Regions from separate parts of the Homo sapiens genome. Here all the other regions are linked to region 3. The links come from fine-mapping of genetic effects on gene expression. A gene starts in region 3. Each other region holds a variant in brackets. All regions are shown on one strand. Distances are between the middles of the regions.

Evidence for each region. PIP is the estimated chance that this variant, and not a neighbour inherited with it, causes the effect. A credible set is the group of variants that fine-mapping cannot tell apart.
Region 1: its variant is the best candidate, but not a certain one, in a credible set for the expression of GCSIR in pituitary (GTEx, PIP 0.52).
Region 2: its variant is the best candidate, but not a certain one, in a credible set for the expression of GCSIR in prefrontal cortex (CommonMind, PIP 0.87).

The regions. Positions count from the first base shown.
Region 1 is chr2:230,625,471-230,633,654 of GRCh38, reverse strand. No RefSeq gene overlaps it. Among named protein-coding and RNA genes, the nearest start is that of LINC01907, 71 kb to the left of the region's middle. The variant T/A (reference allele first, on the strand shown) is at 4,260.
Region 2 is chr2:230,927,346-230,935,529 of GRCh38, reverse strand. It overlaps a transcript of GPR55 not described here. Among named protein-coding and RNA genes, the nearest start is that of GPR55, 6.2 kb to the right of the region's middle. RefSeq lists a silencer at 5,994-6,123. The variant C/G (reference allele first, on the strand shown) is at 4,854.
Region 3 is chr2:230,883,095-230,891,278 of GRCh38, reverse strand. GCSIR (GPR55 cis regulatory suppressor of immune response RNA) reads right to left here and starts at 4,733. Exons shown (of 4, transcript NR_038238.1): 1 at 4,310-4,733. RefSeq lists an enhancer at 5,301-5,370.

The sequences.
Region 1 (8,184 bases), 260 kb after region 3:
GCCTGAGGCAGGAGAATCGCTTGAACCTGGGAGGTGGAGGTTTCAGTGAGCTGAGATCACACCACTGTACTTCAGCCTGGGCGACAGAGCAAGACTTAGTCTTAAAAAAAAAAAAATTAGCTGGGTGTGGTGTCATGTGCCTGTAGTCCCTGCTACTTGAAAGGCTGAGGTGAGAGGATTGCTTGAGCTCAGGAGGTCAAGGCTGCAGTGAGCCATGATTGTGCCACTGCGCTCAATGTGGGCAGCAGAGTGAGACTCTGTCTCAAATAATAATAATAACAACAATAATAAAATAACAATGTAATACATCAAATATATAAAAATGTATAGAGAAAAATATAATGAACAGCCACTTAAAAAAATAAACATTAATGGCTGGGTGCGGTGGCTCACGCCTGTAATCCCAGCACTTCGGGAGGCTGAGGTGGGTGGATCACCTGAGGCCAGGAGTTCGAGACCAGCCTGACCAATATGGTGAAATCCCGTCTCTACTAAAAATACAAAAATTAGCTGGATATCATGGCGTGTGCCTGTAGTCCCAGCTACTTGGGAAGCTGAGACAGGAGAATTGCTCGAGCCCAGGAGGCGGAGGTTACAGTGAGCCGAGGTCGTGCCATTGCACTTCAGCCTGGGCGACAGAGCAAGACTCCATCTCAAAAAAAAAAAAAGAATTACTAATACAACTGAGGCTTCCTAGACCACATCTCCTGCCGCTTCTTTCAGTGGCAACAATATTTCTGAATCTAGTGTTTAGCATTCTCATTGATTTGTTTATACTTTTAACTACTCTCTGTATTTATCCTTAAGACTATTAAATATATGCAGTACTTTCACTCTGTCAGGGTGGAATGGCTGTAGACACAGTCAAATTTTCAAATCTTTGGTGATATCCAGAGCCTCCAGCCATCAGAGGCGGGATAGGCCCTCCCCCTGGCTTGGACCTTGGGCAGTTCCCCACCAGAGGCTGTGGAGGTCTCCAACATCCGGCAACATCCTTCCCAAGTGCCTGGCTCAACCCTTCTGTGCCTGGGAGTTTTCTCAGATGCCATGGGGGCTTGCAGGACTGCAAGCTGGAGAAAGAGAAACTCCCAACAGTTATGGCCCCCGGAACAACCACCAACCAGGGAAGGATGGGAGAGAGCACAAAGAGGCTCAGCAGCCTGCACCCCCCGCCCCCCACCGCCACAGGTGGGTTCTAGATGCTTACCCAGAGGGTTCCCGGTGGGAGGAACCCCACGTGTCCACCCCCTCACAAATGGGCCGTCTGATGGCTTTTCTCCTACTCCCATCATATGTGGGTCCTGAATTTGTCTTTCACATAAGTGCCTGGCTCCCAAGCCCTTGCTCAGGCCTGTCTGGGGAGCGGGGAAACTGAACTAGGCCAGCCTTAGTCTCCCACTCCTCCTAACGCTCTTACAATGAAGCAGGTCTTCAATGAATCCAGAGCGGGTCACAGAAGTACAGGGAGGGGGCCTTGTAGATCATTTGGATGACTTTGGTGTTGACTTTGAGCAAGGTGGGAGCTGTTAGAGGATTTTTTTTTTAATGCCTTAATAGACTTTTTATTTTAAAATTTAATTTATTAATTTATTTAAGACAGAGTCTCACTCTGACACCCAGGCTGGAGTGCAGTGGTGCGATCTTGGCTAACTGCAACCTCCACCTCCTTGGTTCAAGTGATTCTCATGCTTCAGTCTTCCTAGTAGCTGGGATTACAGGCACATGCAACCACGCCCAGCTAATTTTTGTATTTTTAGTAGAGACAGGGTCTCATGATGTTGGCCAGCCTGGTCTTGAACTCCTGACCTCAAATGATCCACTTGACTCGGTCTCCCAAAGTGCTGGGATTACAGGCATGAGCCACCACACCGGGCCAAATAAACTTTAGTTTTTAGAGCAGTTTTAGGTTCACAGAAAAATTGAGCAGAATGTACAGAGATATTTCATATACCCCATGGCCTCACACATGTACAACCTCCCCCACTGTCAATATCCTCCACTAGGGGGTATATTTGTTAGAAGTGACGAACCTACAATGATAATCATAATCACCTAGAGTCCATAGTTTTAAATTAGGGTTTACTCTTGGTGTACATTTTATGGGCTTAGACAAATGTACGATAACATGTATCCACTATATAGTATCATACAGACTAGTTTCACTGTCCTGCAAATCCTCTGGGCCCCAACTCTTTATCTCTCTCTCCTGTCTAAACTTTGGTAAGCATTAATCTTTTTGTTTGTTTGTTTTTGTTTTTTGAGACTGAGTCTTGCTCTATTGCCCAGGCCGGAGCAGAGTGGCACGATCTCGGCTCACTGCAACCTCCGCCTCCCGAGTTCAAGCAATTCTCCTACCTCAGCCTCCTGAGTAGCTGGGATTACAGGCACCCAACACCACCCTAGTTACTTTTTGTGTTTTTAGTAGAGATGGGGTTTCACCATGTTGACCAGGCTGGTCTTAAGCTCCTGACCTCAGGTGATCCACCTGCCTCAGACTCCCAAAGTGCTGGGATTACAGGCGTGAGCCACCGTGCCCGGCCACTGTTGATATTTTCACTGTCTCCATGTGTTGCCTTTTTCAGAATGTCATATAGTTGGAATCATGCAGTACATGGCCTTTTCAGATTGGCTTCTTTCGCTTGGTGATATGCATTTAAGTTTCCTCCTTGTCTTTTCATGGCTTGACAGTTTGTTTTTAAGCTCTGAATAGTATTTTAGTGTCTGGATGTACCACAGTTTATTTACCCATTTACCTACTGAAGGACATCTTGTTTGCTTCCAAGTTTTGGCAGTTATGAATAAAGCTGCTATAAATATTGGTGTGCAGACTTTTGTGTAGACATAAGTCTTCAACTCCTTTGGGTAAATACCAAGGAGCATGATTGCTAGATTTTATGTTAAGAGTAAGTTTAGTTTTGTGTAAAAGACTATGTTTAGTATGTTTAGAAACCACCAAACTGTCTTCCAAGGCAATAGTACTATTTTGCATTTCCACGAGTAATGAATGAGAGTTCCTATTGCTCCACTCCCTTGCCTGCATTTGGTGTTGTCAGTGTTCTGGATTTGGGTTATTCTAATAGCTGTATAAAGGTGTCTCATGGTTTTAATTTGCATTTTCCTGATGACATATGATGTGAGCCCATTTTTGTATACTTATTTGCCACCTCTTCTTTGGTGAGGTGTCTGCTAAAGTCTTTGGCTCATTTTTCAATTGGGTTCTATATAAAATATATAAATTTTGAGCCAGGGACAGTGGCTCATGCCTGTAATCCCAGCACTTTGATAGGCCGAGGCGGGTAGATCACCTGAGGTCATGAGTTCAAGATCAGCCTGGCCAACATGGTGAAACCCCGTCTCTACTAAAAATAAAAAAAAATTAGTCAGGTGTGGTGGCACGCACCTGTAGTCCCAGCTACATGGGAGGCTGAGGCACGAGAATTGCTTAAGCCCAGGAGGCAGAGGTTGCAGTGAGCCAAGATTGCGCCATTGCACTCCAGCCTGGGCAAAAAGAGCAAAACTCCATTTCAAAAAAAAAAAAATATATATATATATATATGTGTGTGTATATATACGTATATATATGTATATATGTGTATATATGTGTATATGTGTATATATGTGTATATATGTATATATGTGTATATGTGTATATATGTGTATATGTGTATATATGTATATATGTGTATATATGTGCATATATATGTGAATATATGTATATATGTGTATATATATGTATATATGTATATATGTGTGTGTATATATGTATATATATGTACATATATATATGTGTGTATGTGTGTGTGTATATATATATATATATAAAGTTTGGAAACAGTCCTTTATCAGATCTGTCTTTTGCAAATATTTTCTCCCAGTCTGTGGCTTCTGTTTTTATTCTCTTGACAGTGTTTTTCACAGAGCAGAAACTTTTAATTTTAGTGAAATCCAGCTTATCAATTATTTCTTTTATGAATTGTGCCTTTTGTGATATATCTAAAAAAATAATTGCCAAACCCTAGGTCATCTAGATTTTCTCCTATCTTCTAGGAGTGTCTTAGTTCACTTTCTGTTGCTCATAACTGGATAACTAAAACTGGGAAATGTATAAAGAAAAGGAATGTATTTCTTACAGTTATAGAGGCTGAGAAGTCATAACCTGAAGGGTTGCATCTGGTGAGGGCCTTCTTGCTGTGGGGACTCTCCATAGAGTCCCAAGGTGGTGCACAGCATCACATGGTGAGGGGCCTGAATGTGCTAGA[T/A]CAAGTCTCTCCTCTCCTTTTAAAGCCACCAGTCTCATTCTCATAGTAACACATTAATCCATTAACCCTTTAATCCATTAATCCATGAATGGATTAATTCATTCATGAGAGCAGAACCTTCATGACACAATCACCTCTTAAAGGCCCCAATACTGCCACATTGGGGATTCAGTTTCAACAGGAATTTTGGAGGGTGCAAACACCTAAATCATAGGAAGAAGTTTTACAGTGTTCCGTTTTCCGTTTAGGGCTGTGATCTATTTCAAGCTAATTTTTGTGAAGGCTGTAAGATCTGTGTCTGGATTCATTTTTTGTAAGTGGATTGTATTATTCTGTTCTCACACTGCTATGAGGAAATACCTGAGACTGGATAATTGATAAAGGAAAGAGGTTTCATTGACTCATAGTTTCTCATTGCTGGGGAAGCCTCAGGAAACTTATAATCATGGTGGAAGGCAAAGGAGAAGCAGACACTTTTTTCACAGGGCAGCAAGATGGAGTGAGTGCGAGCAGGAGAAATGCCAGAGGCTTATAAAACCATCAGATCTTGTGAGACTCACTCATTATCAGGAGAACAGCATGGAGGAAACCTCCCCCGTCATTTGATTACCTCCACCTGCTCCCACCCTTGACACATGGGGATTATTACAATTCAAGGTGAGATCTGGGTGGGCACACAGAGCCAGACTATATCATGGATATACCATTGTTCCAGCACCATTTGTTAAAAAGACTATCTTTGCCTCACTGTGTTGCCATTGGAGGATTTGAAGCAAAGGAGTGATGAGATACAAATCACACTTTAAAGGATCACTCTGGCTCCAGGTGGAGATGTTAAGTAAGCAGTGGATGTTCAGGTGAGCGGTCTGGCCAGCTGACGTGGGTTTGAGACTCATCAGCACGGAGCTGGAACCTACAGCTGTGAGGCTGGATGAGGTCTCTGAAAAAGAAGTATAGTCAGGAAAGGGAAGAGGTCCAAAAAGTGAGGCCGGGACACCTCCGCATTTAGAGGTCAGGGGTTTAGAGAAGAACCAGCAAAAGAGACTGAAGAAAAAAAAAGCCCAGCTGGTGAGATGGGAGGAATTCAGGAGGGGTGACGTCCTGGAAGCCAAATGCAAACAATATGTGAGGAGGAGGGAGTGGCTGGTTCTGTCAAGTGCTGCCAAGAGCTTCAGTCAGATAAAGGATGAAAGTCAACCACAGGACTCAGCAATATGAAGTTTGCTCGTGACCTTGACAAGAGTGGTATTGGTGAGTGGTGGGAGCAAGCAGGGAGAGGAGGAATTGGAGGAAATAAACAGAGGCCTCTTTTGGGAGCAGCTGGCTATAAAGGCAAGGAGAGAAAAGAGGGAGGGGCTGGGGAAGGTTTTTTTTTTGAGACGGAGTCTTGCTCTGTCGCCAGGCTGGAGTGCAGTGGAGTGCATCTCGGCTCACTGCAGGTTCCGCCTCCCGGGTTCAAGCGATTCTCCTGCTTCAGCCTCCTGAGTAGCTGGGACTATAGGCATGCGCCACCACGCCCAGCTAATTTTTGTATTTTTAGTAGAGACGAGGTTTCACCATGTTGGCCAGGATAGTCTTGAGCTCTTGACCTCGTGATCTGCCCGCCTTGGCCTCCCAAAGTGCTGGGATTACAGGCGTGAGCCACCTCACCCGGCCGGAAGGTGTTTTTACGATGGGAGACTATAACAGCATGCTACAAAGAGCTGCCTGCTCTACAGATAACCCCAAACTGCTGGGATGATTTTCTTTTAAAAAATTCATTTCACTGCTCAAGTGTTGCTTACCTCTGTTATTTATTTATTTATTTATTGAGATGGAGTCTCACTCTGTTGCCCAGGGTGGAGTGCAGTGGCGCAGTCTTGGCTCACTGCAACCTCTGCCTCCCAGGTTCAAACTATTCTCCTACCTAAGCCTCCTGAGTAGCGGAGATTTCAGGTGTGTGCCACCACGCCCAGATAATGTTTTTTGTATTTTTAGTAGAGACGGGGTTTTACCATGTTGGCCAAGCTGGTCTTGAACTCCTGATCTTAGGTGATCTGCCTGCCTTGGCCTCCCAGAGTGCTGGGATTACAGGTGTGAGCCACTGCACCCATTCTATCTATCTATCTATCTATCTATCTATCTATCTATCTATCTATCTATCTATCTATCTATCTATCTCACTCTGTCACTCAGGCTGGAGTGCAGTGGCACAATCATAGCTCACTGCAGCCTTGAATTCCTGGGCTTAAGTGATACTCTTACCTTAGCCTCCCGAGTAGCTGGAACTACAGGTACACACTACCATGCCTGGCTAATTGAAAAACATTTTTTTTTTTTTTTATAGAGACGGGGTCTCGCTATGTTACCCAGGCTGGTCTCAAATTCCTGGACTGAAGCGATCCTCCCACCTTGGCCTCCCCAAGTGCTGAGATTACAGGCATGAGCCACTGCATCCAGGCAAGTGTTACCTCCTTAAAGAGATCTTCCCAACCTCTGCAGCCTATCAGTCACCCCTTTTTCTTGTCTTCCTAGCCCTATTCACCATTCGAAAATAGCTTGTGAATCAATCAATCAATCAATCAATCAATTCTTTGATCTTTCCCTTCTATAACATATGCTCTTCTAGGGTTATAACCTTGTCTGTTTTGCTCATTGCTCTTTTCTCAGTATCCAAAAGAGTGGCTGGCCAGGGGTTAGTGGCAAACCAACTCTCTGAGGGGAAAAAAGTTCTGATTTGTAGCATTTGCCAATTACTATGGTGCCAATATTCCTACCATGGCTGACTTCAAACTACCAACATGACATGACTAAACGTGGAGTTGGGAAGGAATGTGCACAATTGGTTTTCCTGCACTGGTGCACATTGGCTGGACTGTACTTAGCATGTAGGTGGCACTCAGTTAATATTGGTTGAATAAAAGGGTGAATGAATAATCATTAGCTTGAGCCATTATTCCACTAATAGTAGGCCCCTGGATATTCTTGGAAGGTTTATATTTTTCCTGTTGCTCCTTAGTCCTCTATCTTTTCCTCCCCTGGGAAGTTCTGCCTGTCTCCCACACTGCCTTGTTGAAAACTACCCATAATGCTGCATGTACCAAACTTATACTGAAGGTTCGAGGCAGTGGAGGGGAGTTCTGTCGGGTCCTGAGCCAGGGAGCATCTTCCCAGTTGTCTCTGCATAGAGTGCCAGGTGGCTGGCTGGGCTCCTTCCTTTTCTTCTCCACCAGCTGCCTCGTAAGAAATGAAATGTTTTCCTCCAGTTCATCTCTCTTCAGGCCCACCAGACTAAGCATAGATACCTATCTTTCTGTAACCAAAACCCCTTTAATATGTCCCTTCACCCTAAAGCGCATCTCTTTATTCAGTATCTTCTAGCATCACAGTGCAGTAGGAGAAACCCTGCAGGTTTTTGTTTTGTCCTGGGTAGGGTTAAATTTGTCAGCAGGGTTGCTTCCCTGGTTCCCCACTCCTCACTATTCCTCAGTAATTTTACACAGCTTAGATGACAAAAAGCCTTCAGTGACATTATTTTTTCTTCACTGTAAAAAAGTCCCTTCTCTTCCCTTCCCTTTTCCTTCCCTTCCCTTCCCTTCCCTTTTCCTTCCCTTCCTTTCCCTTTTCCTTCCCTTCCCTTTTCCTTCCTCTCTCTCTCCCTCTCTCTCTCTCTTTCTTTCTTTCACTTTAAGTTCTAGGGTACATGTGCACAATGTGCAGGTTTGTTACAAAGGTATACATGTGCCATGTTGGTTTGCTGCACCCACCAACTCGTCATTTACATTAGTTATTTCTCCAAATGCTATCCCTCCCTGAGCCTCCCAAACCCTGACCAGCCCCAGTGTGTGATGTTCCCTGCCCTGTGTCCACGTATTCTCATTGTTCAATTCCCACCTATGAGTGAGAACATGTGGTGTTTGGTTTTCTGTCCATGTGATAGTTTGCT
Region 2 (8,184 bases), 44 kb before region 3:
CCTGTGAAAGCCTGAGGGAAGACCACAACACACAGCACAATTGTGTGAGACCCTAGGACTCAATCAACTGGGCAAAACCCCTTTTACAGCCAAAGCAAGTCACTCACTCAAGGCCCCCTAGGAGCTTCAGAAGGAAAGACTTCCTGGTAATAAACAGGTCCATGGAGCCCGTCAGCCTTCGCTTCCTGGGCCCCTCATCCAGACAGGAGGCTGCGCTGGGGCTGGGAGTGGCTGCCGGGCTGGGACCACACACTCTAGTTCCTAAGACGTGCCTGCCTCTGTGTAACCTGAGGCCCCTTTTCTGATGTGTTCCAGGCAGCCTGAACTAAAACACCGCCGCTTTGTCTGACCACAGCGCCAGGAGCCTTCTCTTGGAAATGTGGTCACGATGGTGCTGAGGCTGCGGGTCCTGCCACCATCTCTGAGGGAGAGGAAAAGTGCCCCCCACCCCAGGCGTTTCCTCTGAGACCCGTGTGTCTCTGGCATGAAGGGGCCTGTGTGTCACTTGTCCAGGTGGTAGGAAGGAGGTAACCCATGTGTGTCCTGGCAGCCAGAGAGGCTCTGGGCACCCTGGGCGCAGTCAGCAGAATGTAGGGGTCCTGGGTGGGGGTGGGGGAAGCCCAACCCAACAGGACAATGCCCTTCCTTGGTGGGTGGAGTCAGGGTGGGAAACCCCGACTGAAGAGAGGGCTTAATCCCCAAAGCTCCCTTGCCGACCTGCAGTGACGGCTCTTCACTCTTAGGGACTATCTGGGTTTAACACTGAAGGTCCAGAGTCCCCCCAGGAGTCCCATCCATTCTGGGCAAACCAGAACAGATGGTCATCCTCACCCCACCCCAGATAGCAAACAGGGCCACCCCGAGGCGTCCGGATGCTAATCTTCCCCAGGGGAGGCTGACTCCTGCCCAGAGGTTACCAGGAGTCAGCATGGAGTGGGCCCCGGGGAGGGAGGCGGCCGGGCTCTAAGCATTTTGCTAAGCACTTGGGCTGGGTCAGGCTGGCTGTCCCTGGTTCTTCTGACCTGTGTCCTCCTTCCCCTGGGACCAAGAGCTCAGGGTTGGGGCTTTCAGTGGATACTTGTGCTGTTCACAGAGGTGGTCATCTCACATTTGGTCCTGGGAACTAACCCCCATCCCTGAGGGGCAGAAAGAGCAGCTGTGCTGGGGTCGGAGAGAGGCCGGGGACCAGAAACCTGGAATCAGTACTCGGTGCTCGTTCCACAGCTTTTGGTGAGAGAGGTGCAGAGAGGTGCTGGCCCTGATGCAGACCTAGGTTTTGTGATTCCAGGGCCAGGGCTGGGTTAGAAATCACCATATTCTGTCAGCCTTTTGTGTTGTAGGGGCAGGTGGAGAAACAGCCAGTGCAGGGAGGGGTCTCTCCAAATAAGCGGCCCATATACCTAGGCCAGTGCCCCTGGGGGACAGTCCAGTCTATTAGCACTGGAAAGGAGGGTTGAAAAGGTGGGCAAGGAAAGCACCCTGAGCCCAGGTGACAATAGAGGCGAGGAGAGGGAGGCAGGAAGTGACCACAGCCTGACCCAGCACCTCTGGGGTGGTCACCGGAAGCTTTGGGGTGACTGCAGATGTGGCCTCAGAAACTGAAGTCAAGAACTTCAGAGGCTGAGCTCTTGGGGAAGACCTGGTAATGCCTCTCCTAGCGGACACATCCCCTGCATCCTGCATCTCCCACCCCCACAGCAGAGCTTCATCCCGCTGCTGTCACTGCCCCCACCCAGGCAGCCTTTGCCCTGCCAAGGGAGCCCCCGCCCTGCCTCCTGGAGACGCTGACTTCCAGGAGTGGGGAATGCTGCCGGCGCAGGGGCTGCTGCTCCTGGATAAGAGGCAAGCCCTGTAAGGAGAGAGGCCCTGAGTCCCCTGAGTCCAGCCACCACCTCTATGGCCGCTCTGAAAGCCTAAGGGGACTGAGGGTGGACATGAAAGGAGGTTGCTCTAGTTTCTTTGGCCTGTGGACCAACCTGAGGAGGGACAGCCACCCACTGCCACAGGCCAGTCCCCAGGTGGCTGAGAGCTCCCTTGGAGATGGGGGCTTCCTGGAGGGCCTGCCAGGCTGCCCAGCAGCTGCACACCATGGGCTGCCCCGTGTGTTCAGTAGGTTCCTGACTTCCCCTAGCAGGGACATCAGGGTCCCAGGAGACGGTTTGCAGGAAGGGCCAACGGAGGGCAGGTGGAGGATGCGGTGGACGGATGGGAGGGAGATGGGGCAGTGGAGCAGTCTGCCCAGGTGGCTGGAGGCCAGAGAAAGGCCAGAAGGGAAGTCAAGAGCACAGGAAGAGTGAAGAGCAGAGAGGCAGGCCAGGCAGAGAGGGCGGAGGGAAGGGGGGAGCTGGGCGGGGCAGGGGACTTCAGGGGCTTGGCTAGGCCCACAGGAGGCGACAGGGCACAGGACCAGAAGGCAGTGATGGAGGGTAGCAGGGAAGGGGGAAGAGGCAGGAAGGGGCAGGGAAAGGAGTGGGCTGGAAGCAGCCGGGTGAAAGCAGACCCATTTTCCCTTCATCGTTGCCAAAGATCAGCGTGAGAGCACGATCCTGGGGCTCTGAAGTCAGAGTTCAGTCCGGCTTCTGTTCCCTTAGGATTTGTCCTTGTGACCTCACATGTAGAGAATTAGAGAGAGCGAGCGCATGCAAGAGAGAGAGAGAGAGAGCAGCAGTCCTGCCTGTAGCACAGCTACAGGGATGTGCAGACTGAGGCCCTGATGGAGGCAGTCCCAGGCCGAGCCTGGGCTAGAACAGGGTGTGCCTTGTCACAGGAAGCGAGGAGGTGGTGCAAGAGTGGGAGAGAGGCCTGGTTTAGGATGACGGCCAGACACGAAGCAAGAGATTGGGGCTCATGCAGGCACAGCTGGGCAGCTGGAAGAGGCAGGACCTGGCCAGTTTCGAGCCCCACGTGGAGACTGTCCTTGTAATGAACATGTCCTTCTGTTCGGAGCTTTATGTACCTTTATCATATAAACATTCACAGCCATGCTGTCTTCATTTAGAAGAGGTGTAGATCCAACTATTTTAATGAACACTGAAGACTTTCCTTCCATAGTAGCTTCCCCTTCATGTAACGTTATGTGCATTATGTAACAGAATGCAATGTACCTTTACAGAAATCTCTGTAATTTCAAAATGATATAATGCACAAATTAAGACTTCTAGTCACCTTAGATGATAGAAACAATATCCATCCAGCCGGTGGTAATTTTCTGCCTTCAGCACCAATTATGTAGGGAATGAGTTTTTAATCTTGTGAATTCCTCTAACATGTTTCCTGCCCTCTGGATGCCTCCCACAAACAGCTGCAACCACCTGACGGGCAGGCGCCCAGAGAAGGTCGGCGGGCTGGTGGCGTGGAGGTGTTTCTCTAAGCAGCAGAGTACCTTTGTCACTTGGTTGGGTGCAGACCGCGGCTGGTTTGTAGGACAAGGAGCTGGAGCTTCACGCCTCAGAACCGAGATTTTTTTCTGTGAAGTTGGAGGCCAGGCTGTCTGGGGATGGTGAGGAGCTGGAGGTGAGGCCTTGAGGTGTGGAGTGGCCTCGACGGGACCGGGCTGGGGTGGGGCTGCCCTACCACCAGGGAAGGGGTGAGGGGTGCTGGTGCCCTGAGACTGCCATTTGGATGGTTCCCTTTGGCTCCAGGAGCATTGTCCATGGGCTAAAGGGGCTGGGGTGGAGTGGGCAAGCAGGCGAATGGACTGGGCCAGGGGTGGCCCGGGCAGTGGAGTGGGGCACCACTCAGGGTGTGGAAGGAAGGGGAGCAGAGGGGCCCCGCATGCTCTCATGGGGATGGGGCTAATGGGCAGGGGTGAGAGCAGCAGGAGGTCGCACCGTGAGGCCAGACTGTGAAGTGGGGCCCTCGTGGGTGCAGCGGTCGGGGCCTGTGGCAGCAGCAGGTGCACTGTGTTCCTGCTCAGCGTCTTAACAAGTGGGCTTATCAGGCGAGTTGCCAAAACCTCTCAATGCCTCCATTTCCACCCTGTAAAGTGGGAGTGCCTGTGGGTCCTGCCTCATGGGGTTGGTGAGGGTTCAGCAAGGTGGGACAGGTAGAAATCGGCCTCTCTAGGTGCCATCTCCTAGGCCCAATCCCAGCTCTGCATCAAGCTCGTGGTGCACATTTGGGCACAGGGCTCCAGCCCTCTGTGCTTCAATTTCTTCCTCTGTCAACAAGGCTGTTGATCGTTTGCACCTCCCAGGGTGTTTGGAGAATGAACAGACTTAATTTGTAAAGTGTACTGCCCTCGGCGTGGTCCTCAGGACAGGCAGGGTCAGTGTTGGAGGGAGCTGTCACCATTGGCAATGACGTCTCCTTGAAGAGTCGGGAGGACTTGGGGTGGAGATGAAGACTGAGCCAGGTACTGGAGTGTGGTGTGCCCTGGAAGATATTTGATGGCATTAAAGAGCAGAGGTGGTAGCTCTGCATGTGGGGTAAGGCTCTCAGGACAAAGCGTTTTGCAGGAGAATAGGGTGTGAGTGCTGGCACAGTTCCCGGGGGAGTGGCGGGTAGGTAGGGCAGGTGGGGACCTCCCCATAGCCTTCACCTGTCAGCCCCTCAGTATTGGAGAAGATTTTTTTACCTTCCACCCCAATATATACTTTTTAAAAATCAGAATTAAATAAAAGACTTTCAGGAAGGAAATGAATGTCCTAGTTACTCAAACTACAGAAGGGTGAAGATAGGTTCATTATTAAAGTGCTACAGGATAATTCATGGAGACGAACGACACAATTAACAATTTCCATGCCGCAAAACAAAGATAAAACTGAGCCAGGCGCAGTGGCTTAAGCCTGTAATTCCAACATTTTGGGAGGCTGAGGTGGGTGGATTGCTTGAGCTCAGGACTTGGAGACCAG[C/G]CTGGGAAACATGGCAAAACCTCTCAATGCCTTTGTATTTTGTACCAAAAGTACAAAAATTAGCCAGGCGTGGTGGCACGTGTCTGCAGTCCTGGGAAGTTGAGAGGCTGAGGTGGGAGGATCGCTTTAGCCCAGGAAACGAAGGTTGCAGTGAGCTGAGATCATGCCACTGCACCCCAGCCTAAGTGAGACTCTGTCTAAAAAAAAAAAAAAGAAAGAAAGAAAAGAAAAACAAAACAAAAAACCCAAAGATAAAAATGTCTGTGTGTAGGGGAGGTGGGAAGGGGTGAAGTAGGGAGAAAAGACTCAACACGTAAGAAGAATAGGAATTCAATAGCTAAAGTGGAAAACAGAATATTAGGCTCCTGATGGGCATGTGGGCAAAGGAAATAGTACACTTTATGCAACAGGAAACATAAAAGAAAATAAGTATTTCAAAAGGGTCCACCATCTGCTCACACTCCTATCCCCGTGTCCCTGAGAAATAAACAAGTGTAGCTCAGTAGCTGTGACCTGGTGGCCTGGACAGGGAGCTGCTGGGAGGCCAGAGGGGGTACTCAGAGGTGAGCAGAATCCCCTCATTCCTTGACTCCTGGCCCCAAGGCCCAGGTGGGAGGCGGGGGGGTCCTGGCTGCCCGGCGGGAGTGGAGGGAATGCTGGGAAGCTGTTGCCAGGGTTTAGCCCAGGACTCTGCTCCCTTGAGCGCCAAACCTCAGGAGGGCCTCAGGAGGACCTGGATGAGACAGAGCCAGAGGTGTTCACTTGGAAGCATTTGTTTAATGTTCACAAGACATTCAGTGGCTCCATGTGCCAGGGGAGCCATGGGACAGGGTGGGCTTCCAGAATTCTCTCCTCCCCTGCATTTGGCAGCAGGGGAAACTTGGGACGTACAGAGACCTGTGCTCTCTGTAAACTTCGTAGTAAAGGGCCTCCTCTGGATGCCGTGGGCTTTCGGTGATAAGACAACCATTGCATTTGAAGACCACCTTTGTCCAACTTCTGCACATTCTGGGGGCTCCAAGCCCCATCAGGGCCATCAACAGCCATGGGCAGGATGACTGCAGGGAGAAGCTTGGTGGCTCTAAAAGAATTGGCTGGATCATGACAAGAACAGAAGGCACAGATATCTGAGCATCTGCAACCTTCTCCTGTAACCTTGATGTTACATTTCCAGTGAGTGACAGAGGGGCACGTGGGGTGACATGGGAGGGGAAGGCTGCATTCTGGACAGTTGCTGCCCCCTTGCGTGTTTTACTCCCTTCTGCCTTGACATTAAGCATCACTGACCTCAGCCACCATGGGCCCACTTTCAAGGAGACATCTTCAATTGCTAAGGGGGATTATCAGGGCCCCGAGTTGGGGGGCTTGGGGGCACGCACCTTCCTGTCTTTGTGAGCACCTAGGGGGCAGGGTGTCAGTCCTCAGGGACTTGGCAAAGGCTCCAGGAACGGGCTTCGTGTGGTATAGCACCCAGCTGACCGTGCAGGGGAGTCATCCGGGCTCAATGTTTAAGTGGGGCTTGGTGGCCGGATGCAGTGGTTCACACCAGTAATCCCAGCACTTTGGGAGGCCGAGGTGGGGGATCGCTTGAGTCCAGGAGTCCGAGACCAGCCTGGGCAACATGGCAAAACCCCATCTCTATTTTTACAAAAAATAAAATAAAATAAAGAAGTGGGGCTTGGGAACAGAAGTGTTCCCGGCAGAATGGGAGGGGAGAGGCCAGATGGGGAGCCATAGGATGGGGCCTGGGGCAAGTCCCTGCCTAGCCCAGCTCTTGGAGCTCAACCCTTTGAGTCTGTCTCCAGGCCGCACCTGGAGGGTTGGAGCAGAGGGTGGGGGCAGGTGCTGCTCATCTTCCTCTCTTTGCCTCTTCTTCCTGAGTTCCCCTGCCTTCCTCTCTCTGTTGGGGCTTCCTCTGATTTTTAGGACCCCTTTTCCTTGGATCATGAGGGTCTCATTATCAATGTTCCTCCTTTTTTTTTCTTTTCCTTCAAATAGACCCAGCAGGGGAGACAAAGGCAGGCATAAATCAACGAGGAATGGGGGCCTCAGTCACTGCTTGAGTACCAGGCACTTCCTGGGTACACTTACCCCTGTTACCATGCCGACTCCTAAAACAACGTTTTCTGAGACAGGTACTGTCATCTGTCTTCACCACCACTGCCTGGTCCCTAGGAGATGATCCACAAACATTTTTTGATTGAATGGATGTGTAACTCCAATTTGCGGCTGGGGAAATGGGCTCAGAGAGGTTAGGCAACCAGCCCAAGCTGACAGAGCTGCTTTGTGGGGAGTGGCGGCCAGAGACCTGCTGAGGCTATCTTCAGAGTCCGGCTGCCTCAGATGCCCTGGATCCTTCTTTCAGACACTCTGACGCCCCCACTCCTGCCCTCATTCCTTCTTGTTGCTGCTGGTGCCCTCATCCCAACCCAACCCCTGCTGCCCCAGTGGGTCTGTCACATGCTGCCCCTGTGCCAAGCGTGTGTTCCCTGGGACCCCGGGGCGGCCCGTGCCCCTGGTTCCTGCCTGGCCAGCTTCCAGCCTCGGCTCCTGCCATTCCCCCCTTACCCTGGTGCAGAGGGTGCCCGGGCCCTCACCAACCCCGTGCCCCTCCTGCCTGTGCCTGCACCTGGGCTGCCCTCCTCCAGCATCCTCCTCCCTCCCCGTGTCTCTTAGGGTTCAGCTCTTGCCCCTGCCCCTGTTCCCTGACCAGCTCTCTGGGGCAGGCTTGGGAGCACTTCTTGCACAGCTCTGGGCCAAGTGGTCACCCTGCAAACCCCCTGGTGGGCAGGTTTCCCCCCTTGGAGGGAAAGGATGCCCCACGAGGGCAGGGCCAGGCCTCTGGCTGCTGAAGGAGCGAATTTCACCAGCGTCAGGGGAGGATGTGGTGAGCGCCCAGCTATCCTGGACCCGCTCTTTGATAAACACAGTCAGATTCACTTGTTCCTTGCCCTAGAAGAAGCTGGTTCCTGAAGCTCCGAAGCTGCTCCACTGGTGAAGTCGAAGGTGTGTGCCCCCAAACCCCCCAACTCGGGGCTCCCAGCCTGGAAGACAGGCAGGGACCTGCCCAGGCTCCCAAAACCTCCAAGTGATTCTGGATGGTGAGAGGGTGGGCAGGACTAGGGGGAGAAGTTTCAGGAGGCTTAAGGGAAATTTTCTGAGAAAGGTCTTCCTATTTATGACTCCCCAGGCCTGTGGCAAGGGGAGGCGAAAAGCTCGAGGGACAGGCCTGAGCCTTAGGACGGGGCCTTGGGCGAGTCCCTGCCTAGCCTTGCTCTTAGGAGCTCAAACCTTTGAGTCTCTCTGGAGACGTATCTTGGCAAGGGATCCC
Region 3 (8,184 bases):
GCCAAATAGAGAGAACATTTCTTTTTTTTTTTCTTTTTTAGAGACAGTTTCACTCTGTCACCCAGGGTGGAGTGCAGTGGTGAGATCATGGCTCACTGCAGCCTCGAGCTCCCAGGCTCAAGCAGTCTTCCCAAGTAGCCAGGACTACAGGTACATATCACCATGCCCAGCTGATTTTTAAATTTTTTTGTACAGACAAAAAATTTAAATGGCCTGTGTTTCCCAGGCTGTTCTTGAACTCCTGGCCTCAAGTGATCCTCGTGCCTCGGCCTCCCAAACTGCTGGGATTACAGGGGGGAGCCACAGTGCCAGCCAGAGAGAACATTTCTAAGGAGAGAATGATCACAGAGTCCGGCGCACCACCACTCTGCCTTATGCCTAGTGAGAGGGGCTTCACTGAGACTGCTGGGAGACCTGGACATGGGGCCTGGGAGTAATTTGGAAGGGAGCCCTGTGGACTGGGTGGGGGCCAAGCCCCTGGGGAAGCAAGTAGTGAGAGGCTGTGGCTGGAGCTGCCTGCTTGTTGCTTGGAGCACAGGACAAGAAGAGGTGTGTGCCAGCAAATAACCCATTCTGCTGGATTCTGTAGCATCAAAGGGTGTGTGAATGTTTCAGAAGCTGGTCTGAGTTACTTAGATCCAGTCCAAGAAAATGAAGCTGAGGGAGAGTTTGCCTGCATTGAGGTGCAGCTAGTGGTGAGGACGGGGACCAGGGACTCTCATGGAGCATCCACCTGAGGGAGGGTGAACTGGTGATGCTAGTGCTACAGTTTGGATCAATGTTGGAGGTGGGGCCTAATGGGAGGTGTTCTGGTCATAGGTTGGAACCCTCATGAATAGATTATTGCCCTCCTACAGAGGCAAGTGAGTTTCACTCCGTTAGTTCCCACGAGAGCTGGTTGTTAAAAAGAACCTTTGCCTCCCGTGTCTCTCTTGCTTCCTCTCTCTCCACATGATCTCTGCGTGTGATCTCACGCCAGCTCTGTTCGCCTTCTGCCACGAGTGGAAGCAGCCCGAGGCTTTCACTAGATGCCCAGTCTTCCAGCCAGCAGAATCGTGAACCAAATAAGCCCGTTTTCCTTATAAATTCCCCAGCCTCAGGTGTTCCTTTACAGCAACACACACCGACTAAGACAACTAGTGACCTCTCCTGCTCCGACGCCCGACGCCAAGCCCTCACGCTACTGTCCCAAACTTGGAGGCGCCGAGGAGCCTAGTGAAGGGGAGGAAAAGTAGAAGCATGAGGCAGGGGCATGGAGGAGAAACCCGCCAAGCTCCCCACGCGCCTTGTAGGCTTCCCATGTGGGCAGGTCTGGGATGGGGCAAGGGAGTGGTTTTAACTTCAAATGCCATCTGGAGTTTCAACTGTTTTGATAGTTAGATGTTGTAATTACTGAAATTGGATTTGTGTGAATAAAAGTTACCCAAGGGATTTTTATTATCTTGGATGGACCAGAAAAACCAAGAAACCTACCTTCAATTTCATCCAAGGTCAGAGGAGAACCCAACCCACCGACCAGGCTTGAAAAGGTAGTGGGAGAAAGAATTGTTTTCGGATTACACCCCACAAGGCTCCCGTGTTCAATAAAACTGTGACACAAACACTGGGAACAATTCTGGTGAATTTAGGAAGAAAGGAATTGATTGACGGGACACTGGGTGGCTCAGAGTCACTGGGTGGGCTGGAGAAACCACTTCAGCAATTGGGAGACCACAAAGGGAACCGCGGGCTCCAGAATGTGGAGATGATGCCACCACCTTCCTGATGCCCACGAGACTCTGTGTTGCTGTTGTCCCCTCTACCAGGATGCATTTTTCACTGTCCCCCTTCCTGAGTCACTTGTCCCTATGGCATGGTCTGGGTGTGATATGGTATGGCTCTTTGTCCCCACCCAAATCTCATCTCACATTGTAATCCCCGCATCAAGGGAGGAGCCTGGTGGGAGGTGATTGGATCGGGGGGCAGTTTCTCCCATGAGTCGTCACTCATGAGTTCTGGTTGTTTGATAAGTGTCTGGCACTTCCCCGCCGTGCTCTCTCTCTCTCTCCTGCCACATGTGAGACTAACACGTGCCTTGCTTCCCCTTCGCCTTCGGCCGCGATGGTAAGTTTCCAGAGGCCTCCCCAGCCACGTGGAACCGTGAGTCAATTAAACCTCTTTCCTTTCTAAATTACCCAGTCTCAGGTAGAATCTTCATTGCAGTGTGAACATGGACTAATACAGAGAGGAAACATCTGATTGGCTGAGCCTGGTCACATGCTTGACTCCAGCCCCAAGGGGCACTGGGAAAAACAGATTCAGCTTAACAACAGGGATATGTCCTGAGAAATGCATTGTCAGGCAGTTTCATTGTGTGAACATCGTAGGGTGCACTTACACAAACCCGCATGGCATAGCCTACTGCACACCTGGGCTATACATGTTAGCCTACATGGCATAGCCTACTGCACACCTGGGCTATACGGGTTATCCTGTTGCTCCTAGGCCACAAGCCTGTGCAGCATGTTTCTGTACTGAATACTGTAGGCAATCGCAACACAATGGTGTATCTAAACATAGAAAAATATCGTTCAAAATATGGTAGGAAAAATAAAAATATGGTACACCTGTGTAAGGCGCTTACCATGAATGGAGCTTGCAGGACTGGAGGTTGCTCTGGGTGAGTCAGTGAGTGGTTGGTGAGTGAATGGGAAGGCCTGGGACATTACCGACCACTGCTGTAGACTTTGTAAACGCTGTACATTTAGGCTACACCACATTTACGGAAGATTTTTTCTTTCCTCAATAGTAATGTAACCTTAGCTTACTGTACCTTTTTTTTCCTTTATAAACTTTTCAATTTTTAAAAACCTTTGGACTTTTCTATAATAATACTTAGCATAAAACACCAACACATAGAGCTTCACAAAGTATTTTCTTTGTACCCTTAGTCTTTTGTTCTTTTTTTTTTTTTTTGAGGCAGAGTCTCCCTCTTGTCACCCAAGCTGGAGTGCAATGGTGTGTCTCGGCTCACTGCAACATCCGCCTCCTGGGTTCAAGCTATTCTCCTCCCTCAGCCCCCCAAGTAGCTGGGATTACAGGTGCGCACCACCACGCCCAGCTAATTTTTGTGTTTTTAGTAGAGACGGGGCTTCACCATGTCGGCCAGGCTGATCTCGAATTTCTGACCTCAGGTGATCCGCCTGCCTCGGCCTCCCAAAGTGCTGGGATTACACCACGCCCAGTCCCCCTTTTTTTCTATTAAAAATTTTTTTTTTAACTTTTAAACTTTTTAGTTAAAAACTAGACACTAACACACACATGAGCCTAGGCCTACATAGGGTCAGGACCATCAGTATCACCATCTCCACCTCCACATCCTGTCCCACTGGAAGGACTTCAGAGGCAATGCATGCATGGAGCTGTCACCTCCTATGATGACAATGCCTTCTTCTGGAAACCTCCTGAAGGATCTGCTGAGTCTGTTTACAGTTAACTTTTTTTTTAATAACTAAAAAGAGTACACTCTTATTAGCAATTAAAAACACAGTGTAGTAAATACGTAAACCAGCAACATAGTTGTTTATTATTATTAAGTATTAAGTACTACACATAATTGTATGGGCTATACTTTTATATGACTGGCAGTGCGGTAGGTTTGTTTACAGCAGCATCAACACAAACACATGAGTGATGTGTTGCACTCTGACCTTACAATGGCTGTGACGTCACTAGGCAATAGGAATTTTTCAGCTCCATTGTAATTTTACGGGACCACTGTGGTATGTGCAGTCATTGTTGCCTGAAACGTCGTTATGTGGTGCATGGCTGCATAATAGTAGGTGGCTGGTGTCTCCCATCAAAACTGTTTTGGAGGGGCAAATCCTGAATACAGGAACGTGATTCAGATGATTGGCCCCTGGTGGGGAAGGGAGGGCAAAAATTAATATCTTTGAAAAGGGCAAACTGAAGTGATGACCGAGTTTACCTAGAAAATATCAAGATTACACATTCTGCCACTAGACTAAGGGAAGGTTTGAAAACTAGATTATTACACAAAACACACTATTATAGAAAAATAAAGATACCAATAAAGATACTTTGGACACCTGAGTTTGTGGCTATGAAATTCATACTCACCCCAGAGATAACGCGAGACACGAACAAAAGTAATCAATGAAAAACTGCTGGCATACTGACTGCTTGAACACTGTGGGCACTCGCTCAGTGTGGGACAAGCGTGCTGGCTAAAGTCCCTCCCCTTCCCTCCCTCCCCTCCCTGTCCTCCCCACCTCCCCCTGCCTCCCACCCCCACCCCCCACCCCATTACCTCACTGCTGCCAGCCTTCCCTTTCCCATCAGTCCTCCGTTAGGCGCAGAGCCCTGGCTCCTGCGGGGCCAGGCTGGACGTGGCTTCCAGTGACAGGGCCCTTTGTCTCACAGGTGGGAGGCTGGCGTGCGACCTTCATCGGCTCCCACGTCTCTGCCTCCGTGCTCTGGCAGCTGGAGTGGGTGCAGCATGCAGCAAGGATACGGAGATGCCATGGTGGGCCACCGTGACTGCCGACCCTTCTAGGACTGCACCCCCGTCAGTCCTGGCTGCCCCAGGCCCTAGACTCAAAGCCTCTCTTCCAGTCCCCACAGGGAACAGGGCCCCAGGAGGAGAGCAGGCTGCCCCCGTGCCCCGGGCCCTCAGAGGGTGAATTTGGACCTTTCCTGTTGTATTTTGCCCACTCTCTGACATTCCTCTTCCCCACCTTCAAAGCTCAAATGGTTCCCCAGGAAGCCTGCACTAGTCACTCTGATCTCTCCCTCCTCTGAACCCTGTGCTGCCAGGTCACATGCAAAACACGTGTCATTAAAGCTGGAAAAGACCTTCAGAATGACTTGGTCCAAACTCCCCATTTTACAGAAGGGCAAGTTGGAGCCCAGAGATGATGTTAGCCCACCACAGCTGTACAGATGCACCAGGGGACAATGGCAGAGTCCAGATCCCCGGGACCTCGGGACACAGGACTCCCTCCTTACTTCGGGGACACTGCATGTGCTGCCTTGGGTGGTCTGCTGTGCCTCCCCATGAGGGCACGTCCCATGGAAATGGGCTCTTTTTCTTTCCCAGGCAGAGAGCTGGAGGTGCCCAGGGCCCCACACCTGACATGGCCAGGGTGGGCAGGGACCAGTCCATCATCATTCCCTAAGCAGTTATTGGAGCTCTGAGGTCCCTGATAAGTAACACTCCAGCACCAGTGGGTGGTAACTCCTTCAGGCAGAAGGCTGAGCACGGTTTCCATGGAGACCGCCCAGGCTCTGGTTTCCAAGACAACACTTGCACGAGGTTACAGAGCTTCCTATTTATGTCAACTTAACATTTCCAACTGCTCTATTCTTCTGGCCAAACCCGGGCCTAATGCAAGGCCTCCATTCTAGGATGGGTGACAGTCCTCGAGGGCTGGAGGGAAGTGGCTGAGACTCCGTGCAGTTAGGTGAAAGTGAGACATTGCAGCCAGCAGGGCCTCCTCAAGCCCAGGGGCAGGTGTACAGAGACCAATACATGCTCATGCTTATGAATTATAAAAAGGTGTAGAAAGAGACGTAGTCCTACAGCTTCCTGCCATCCCTGCTCTCCAGAGGGAACTGGTGTTACAAGGCTTTGAGTGCGCTTCCAGAAATAGCACATGCACAGCCATAGCGCTATCACTTAAAAAATTCACAAACGGGATAGAGATAAATATATATTCTTGCTCTTGCCACCTGCTTTACCCTAATTATAGATTTCGGAGAACTTTACACATCAGCACAAATAGATCTACCTCATTCTTTGTAATAGCAACAAAATACTGTACTTTTTTAAAATACCAAGTCTCCAACTAAAGGACATTTGTCTTTAGTTTCTTGCTATTATAACAATAAATATGCTTGTACATATACTTTTGCATATCCTATGGAGTACATCCATAGGATACATTCTGGGCCAAAAACATTGCATTTTAAAATTTGATTTTGTCAAACTAATTTACTCCCATTACAGGCCAATGTTACAAAAAACATATATCTAAAATTCCTAAACAAAATGTTAGCAAATGGAATCCAGTAGCATAGATATAAGAAAATACCTCATGACTAAATCAGTTAGCAATATTCGCCACATTAACAGATATGCAAACATATGAATAGATGCAGAAAAAACATTTGATAAAACAATTTAATATCAATCCTTGATTAAAAATAAAAACACTTTGAAAACTAAGAATAGAGAACTTCTTAAATCTCAAAGAGTATTCTTCTAATATTTACAGCTAAACTATATTCAAGGTGAATTTCCTTTTAAATCAAGAACAAAACAAGATTTGTGGCTATCACCATGGTGCCAGAGCTCCTACCCAGTAAGATAGCACAAGAAAAATAAATAAAAGTTTTAATTATTTGAATGGAAGAAACAAAATTTACTCATAATCAGTTACCAGAATTGCTTGTCTACAAAGCACAAGGCTGGGCACTGTAGCTCCCGCTTGTAATCCCAGCACTTTGGGAGGCTGAGGCAGGTGGATCACTTGAGGTCAGGAGTTCGAGACCAGCCTGGCCAACATGGCAAAACCCCGTCTGTACTAAAAAGACAAAAATTAGCCAGGTGTAGTGGCATGGGCCTGTAATTCCAGCTACTCGGGAGGCTGAAGCAGGAGAATCGCTTGAACCCTAGAGGCGGAGGTTGCAGTGAGCCTAGATTGTACCATTGTACTCCAGCCTGGGTGATAGAGTGAGACTCTGTCTCAAAAAAAAAAAAAAAAAAAAAAATTTCCTCAGAGAACTTTGTGGAATAAGAAAGACAGCCCGGCAAGTTTGCTGGATCAATACTCAAAAATAAATTATACTTCTACACATTGGCAACAAAGGTATAATTATTAAACATCATAACAACAAATATAAGGGACATAGGAATCAATGTAATGAAAGATTTGTAAGACCCCTACTGAGGAAAGTATAAAACTATGTTGGAAGACATTAACAATGCAGATTTTAAAAATACCATGTTCATGGGTGAGAGCACTCAATATCCTGATTTCAATTCTCCCCAAGTGGATCTATAGATTTCATATAAGTCCATTAAGAACCTCAACAGAAGGCCAGGCGCGGTGGCTCACACCTGTAATCCCAGCACTTTGGGAGGCTGAGGTGGGCGGATCATGAGGGCATTGAGACCATCCTGGCTAACATGGTGAAACCCCATCCCTACTAAAAATACAAAAAATTAACTGAGCACGGTGGCAGGTGCCTGTAGTCTCAGCTACTTGGGAGGCTGACACAGGAGAATGGCGTGAACCTGGGAGGCGGAGCTTGCAGTGAGCAGAGATCACGCCACTGCACTCCAGCATGAGTGACAGAGCGAGACTCCGTCACAAAAAAAAAAAAAAAAAAAAAGAACCTCAACAGAATTTTCCATGAAACTTGGCAGTTGTTTCTAAAATGCATATGAACAAAAAGGGCCAAGAATAGGCATGGCACTGCTGGAGAGAATCAAGGTAGGAAACTTTTAGTACCAGGTAGCAAGACTTACTTTAAGTGTGGTTATGGTCCAACGGATAGACCTGATGAACAAAACAGAAAGCCCAGAAGTAGACCTTACATATAGAGAAACTTGATCCTTGCAGACATATACTGTAACTCAGTGGGGAAGGAAAAACAAAAACAGAACAAATCGTTATTCCTACCTCACATCAGACCAGGGATTAAATTCCTGGGGATTCAAAAATGTAAAATACAAAACTCTAAAATGAATAGAAGAAATTGTAGAATAATGCCTCTTCAACCTTAGGATGGGAAAGATTTCTGAAATGATATAAAAGGCCCTAACCACAAGGAAAAAGATGAATAAATTTGACTGCATTAAAATCAATAATTTCTGTTCATCAAAGTGACCACAAAGAAAGTGAGAAAGCTATGTACACGTGATGCTGTTTGTAAAAAAAAAAAAAAGGTGAGAAGGCAAGCCATGAACTAACTTGGGTAAGATACTTACCACCCATCAATGAAAATATGTAAAATATAAAATGTATAAATATATAAATAACTCCTACAAATTAGTAAGAAAACAAAGCAACCAATAGAAAAATAGGCCAAAGAAAGCAAGTCGGCATTTTACAGGAAAGGAAATTTGAGGGTTCAATAAACATGTGAAACCGGCCCCACTTTTCTAGTAATCGAGGAGAC